2 separate regions of the Homo sapiens genome follow, and region 2 is linked to region 1. Evidence: fine-mapped expression QTL. Tissue or cell type: cerebellar hemisphere. Region 1 holds a variant in brackets; the other region holds the start of a gene. All regions are shown on one strand. Distances are between the middles of the regions.

Region 1 (2,840 bases):
GAGGCAGTGGGGAGGCCAGGCCAGGGCTGGTCCCTCATCCCACATCAGGATCGGGGCCCCCCACCTCCCTCCAAAGGGCCCTGGCCACCACCATCAGCCCTTCCCGGTGACCCAGATGACCACGTTGATACCAAATGGGGTTGGGGGAGGCACCCCTGCTTTGCACCCAGTGCTGCACCCAGCCCCAGCCCCAAACCCTGCCGTCTCTGGGGGGCTGGCCAGGAGGGAGCCCTGAGTGGCCAGCTGCGACCTGGGTGGGGGCACCTGAAGATGTCTGTCCCCCACCCCTTGTCCTGGGTTGGGAGAGACAGGGGAAAGAGGTCCTCTCAAGGGTGCCAGCTGCCTGGGTCTCCCAAGAGGGTTGCCCCATTTGCCGTCCCCGGGGCAGGCTGCCCCCTGTTCTGGGAAGCCCACCCTCACCTGTTTAGGCCCCGTAGTGACCCACGCGCCCAGCAGACGCCCACCCACTGCTAGCTGTCGTTCCTGTGCAAAGTTGTGTGTTGTGCACCCACCCGGGCGGCCGCCACTAGGCCCGGGGCATGTGCTGTGAGCTTCCTGTGAGCCCAGGTTCTGCTCACTGCTGTCTGTCCTGCATCTTAAACACCACCTCTGCTTTCCTGGTGTAGATCTAGGCCAGTGGCTGCTTGTTCTCGTGGAGCTGTGTGTGTTCTTCTCTGAGCTGCTCCTCCCCGGAGGCCCCCAGCACAGACCCAGGAGATGGCGGGAAGGAGGAACCAGGGCGCGGCCAATGCTCACCCTGTGACCACGATGGTAACCATGACTGTGGGAGGAAGAGCCGGACCCGGGACGGAGTGGGGCTGCCCTGCCTGAGGCTCCCAGGAGAGCTTTATGCTTTGGCATTCCACCCCTGTTGTTACTTGTGACTGTTTCCTCGACCTGGTGGGCTGTTCCCTGCTGTGTTTACTGGTGTCCTGTGACTGTCTGTGATGACTATAGGGCAGGGCCCTGCCCCAGCAGATGGGCTTGGGAGGGGGCTCCCTGAAGCCGGTGGACACTGCCAGAGTCCACGTCCTGGCAAGAGGCGGGCCCTGGGGCCCTCGGGAAGGAGGGAGGTAGCAGTGGGGTCGGCAGCAGGACGGGGGTAGACGAGGCGCCTTGCCAGGAACCCCAGGAGGAGGGATCCTAGGACCTGTGTCCTGTAGTG[G/A]CTGTTTGCAGTTTCTCTCTGTGTTGTGGTTCCCTTCTTTTCAGTGATTTCGGTACACGTTTCTCTTCAATAAATTTCATTCCATTTTCCAGCCGGTCTCGCCTCTGCTGTGGGAAACTAGTGGGAAAGGTCTCTTTGGGATAAAATGGAAGTTGGGGGACAACAGTGGCCTGGAATTCTGACCCTATTGTGCTCACTGGGATACGGTCAGGGCATAGTAGGCCAGCGATTGTAGAGAATGACCTAACTGCGATGGTGGTTCCAACCCAGAGTCAGTGGCTTATGAGGATGAGGAAAGAAACCAAGCTGAACATGCTGGATGGTGCCAGTTGACGGAACACTGCCGTGCGAGGGCAATGTGTGGCTTGCTCCCCAGGGCATGCATGGAGGCTCCCAGAACGAAGTGCATAAGACGTGGAAGGGCAGGCAGGGGACAGCAGGCTGGGGCGGAGGCCTGGGTTGAAGCTCTAGCATAGACATCTTTTTAACTGTTCCTCAGTTCCTCATGTTTATCCTGTGTGTGGAGCTTTCACCATCTCTTTGGAAAGACAGAAGAGATGGATAAGGAAAAGGAGTAGAACAGAGCGGCACCCCTTGCCTTCCCCAGAGTCTGGGTAGCGGGCGCAGGACGTGTCGCCTGTCCAAATGCGCAACTTTCACCAGTGTACGCTACGCGTGCGCGCCTGTGCACCTTGACGAGCACGCAGCCGTCATGAGTGCGCCTGGGCACGCCGCCATTTCCTGCAGCCGCGACAGCACGGTCGTATATTTCCGGTTGTCATTTTATTCTTTTTGAGAAATGGTCTCGCTCTGTTGCCCAGGGTGGAGTGTAGTGGCGCTGTCATAGCTCACTGCAACCCCGACCTCCTGGGCTCAAGCGATTCTCCCGCCTCAGCCTCCCGACTAGCTGGGACCACAGGCGTGCAACCACCATACCCGGAACCACAGTCACAGTCGGTCGCAGTGCCCGCTGGGAAAATGCGACCGTCCACAAAGCGAAACGGCCATCGGGGCGAGTTCGGCCTCGGCGGGGATTCTCCTGAGGTCACGCCCGCTCTGGCCGCCAGAGGACGCCCGAGGATCACGAATGGGCCCGAGGAGCTGGCTGCCCCTTCCCACGCTCAAGGTCTGCAGCCGTGGCCAGAGTGGCCTTGGGGTGACCGCGCGTGGACCGTCGCCGGCGGGAGGGAGCGCGGTCCCGCGGGGGCCGAACGGGGCTCCTGTGGCCTGAGCTTGTTTCGCAGGGAGCCCTGGCGGCCATGGCTCTGGGACACCAGACAACGGTCGTCAGGGCTGTCCAGGGTAAGGGGGTGTGGACGTGCAGACAGGGAGGGCAGCTGGACCCTCCAACCATGCTGGGCCCTTGGGCTGACCGGGGCTCGTCTGTGGGGCTCAGTGAGGAGGGACTTTGTTCCCTAGGAGTTTGATGAGGGAGCGCCATGGGGGTGGCGTCATCCTGACATCCTGCAGGGCAGTGGAGCCTTACTTTCCCTAGCCCCAGAGATCATGAAGTCTCTCTTTGTTTAAAGGTAGAAACCAAGGACAAGAGATTGGTGGGAACTGCTCTGGTTACAAAATTGCAGAACCAGACTTCTTAATTCTGGGACCCGTGCTGCTTTCATTACACTCTACCGCTTCCAGTTTGTGATGTGCTCCTTCTGTCAACAGTTAGCAA
Region 2 (2,706 bases), 24 kb after region 1:
GACCTTGGGCCAGTAGTGTCCCTTCTCTGAACCTCTGTTTCCACCCCTGCAAGTTGGGCAGATGAAGGTTCAGTTTGAAGCTGGTTGAGCCCTTGGAGTGACAAAGCAAGGGACTGTGAATGGACAAAAATGAGAGAAATAAATTCTAATAGGCATGAAGCAACCAGGGGAGAAATAGTCCCAATTCTACCCAAAGACTGATGGGCACTAATTTAGAATCCAGTCTCAATTCTACCTTCAATACGGTGTGTGACCTTGAAAATGTCTCTTAATCTCTCTGAGCCTCATGAGTCAAATCAGGATAATGTTAATACCTGCTTCAGAGTTCTGGTGAGGAGCAAATGAAATAACTCCTGTAAAGATGTTTCAGGAATTCTGTCTGACCAGGAAAAAGCCCTTGGGGCCATTTCTTCTTGGTCCCTGACAAGTGCCAGGCTGACGAGCAGAACTCAGGGTGGGGCAGGAAGTCAGTGGACAGTTTTGTGCCCCACTCACTGCAAGGTGGCCTCCCAGACTTGGCTGGATGGGTGAACCTGGCCTGAAAATCAACCACAAGCCCCTTTTCGTTGTGTTTGGAGAGGAGCTGAAGCTGTGTGAATAGGAGTTGAGCATGCGGCTGGCAGAGCAGGCAGGACCCACAGAACACCTGGGCCCACTGCCTGAGGGACAGTCACTCCCTTCTTCATTTGGCTGCTGCCCTGGGATCAAACGGATACAATAGAACCCACGGCGCACGGCTGCCAAGGAAGGGCAGGCCCAAGGGATTGGGCTCCAAGTCCTGGAAGTGGTTTCCCAAGTCACTAGATTTGCAGCGCACAAAACCGGAAAGGTCCCGGTAAACCTGTCCACTGGCACCTGGGCAGCGAAGCGCTTTGGCCGGAGGGCCTCAGGTCCCAGCAGCGGGATGGACAGCGGGGAGATGGCTGACCCTCCTTGGGGTGGTGTGCGTGACCTGCATGAGTGCCTGGGGCATCTCCTGCACGGAATGGCACCCGCACCAGGTGCCCCTGGCCTCGCCAGCCAGAGGACCAGTCCTGGACGGGGAGGGGGAGGACAAGAGCAGGTGAACAGGCCCCAGAACCCGGCTCCCTGACCCTGGCCATAATGCAGAGCTGCCTGGCGCACCTCAGACCACTCCCTGGCCCTCTGGTGGGCACGCCGGGGTGCAGACCCCTCGCCCCGCTGGCACCTCCGTGGCACGTGCGGGAGGGGCAGGAGCCGGGACCAGGAACCGCTGTGGTGAGAGCCAAAGGCACGGGGACTGGCCGCCACAGACCTTTGGCCACCGCAGTGGGGATGGGGGTGGGCGGGCGCTTGTGTGCCCGGGGGCCCGGGGGCCCCCGTGGCGGGGGGGCTAGGGGAGAGGAGCAGGTGACGTCACCCGGGGACCTGGGGCCCCCAGGGGCGGCGGCGAGAGCCCGACCTCGTGACCCGTCCGCGCCAATGGCCCTGCGGTCTCCCGGACGACGCGGAGGGGTCCGCGCTGCACCGCCGCCGCGCCCCCGCCCCGTGTCCGCACTGCAGAGAGCCGCGGCGAGCAGGCGCCGGCGCACTGGCCCACGTGCTGCGCGAGCGAGGGAGAGCCACAGTCTGAGCGAACGTCCGCGCTGGGAGCCAGGGGTGCCCGACCCCCGTCCGCCGCCGCCGCCGCCGCCGCGCATAGCCCCCGGAGAGCCCTCTGGGGACCCCGACCAGAAGGGACCTTGCCCTGGGAGAAGGTAACAGACCCACCTGGGGAGGGAGACGCTGGGCCCCGGGAGACTCCGCCGCCCCTCGCCTGTCCGCCCTATCAGAACTGAAGCAGCCTGCAGGGCAGGGGTCCAGGGTCCTGGGGCAGCGCGGGGAGGGGGCTGAGGCCCGCAGAGACCCCACGGGGGGTGGGGGTGGGGGGCTGGGCAGGGGCGGGGCCTGGCTGCAGAGGCGCCGCCCGGGGAGGAGGGCGGCTGGGGGTGGGGGTGGGGGTGGGCGTGGATGTGGGCGTGCGGAGAGGTGGGCATTAACCTCGCTCTCGCCCTGCTCGCATTCACAGGCTGTGGAGACCTGGGCCTTCTGCGATCACCCTAGGAGTTGATCCAGATATGTGCCTCACGCCCTGATCACTCCCCCCAAATTAGTATCCGCAGAGATTCGAGGACATGCCGTTGACCTTGTTACAGGACTGGTGTCGGGGGGAACACCTGAACACCCGGAGGTGCATGCTCATCCTGGGGATCCCCGAGGACTGTGGCGAGGATGAGTTTGAGGAGACACTCCAGGAGGCTTGCAGGCACCTGGGCAGATACAGGGTGATTGGCAGGATGTTTAGGAGGGAGGAGAACGCCCAGGCGATTCTACTGGAGCTGGCACAAGATATCGACTATGCTTTGCTCCCAAGGGAAATACCAGGAAAGGGGGGGCCCTGGGAAGTGATTGTAAAACCCCGTAACTCAGATGGGGAATTTCTCAACAGACTGAACCGCTTCTTAGAGGAGGAGAGGCGGACCGTGTCAGATATGAACCGAGTCCTCGGGTCGGACACCAATTGTTCGGCTCCAAGAGTGACTATATCACCAGAGTTCTGGACCTGGGCCCAGACTCTGGGGGCAGCAGTGCAGCCTCTGCTAGAACAAATGTTGTACCGAGAACTAAGAGTGTTTTCTGGGAACACCATATCCATCCCAGGTGCACTGGCCTTTGATGCCTGGCTTGAGCACACCACTGAGATGC

Evidence for each region. PIP is the estimated chance that this variant, and not a neighbour inherited with it, causes the effect.
Region 2: PNMA3 starts here. The variant in region 1 is fine-mapped to the expression of PNMA3 in cerebellar hemisphere (GTEx, PIP 0.98).

The regions. Positions count from the first base shown.
Region 1 is chrX:153,030,595-153,033,434 of GRCh38, forward strand. No RefSeq gene overlaps it. Among named protein-coding and RNA genes, the nearest start is that of PNMA3, 24 kb to the right of the region's middle. The variant G/A (reference allele first, on the strand shown) is at 1,166.
Region 2 is chrX:153,054,921-153,057,626 of GRCh38, forward strand. PNMA3 (PNMA family member 3) reads left to right here and starts at 1,550. Exons shown (of 2, transcript NM_013364.6): 1 at 1,550-1,718; 2 at 2,030-2,706. The coding sequence starts at 2,136.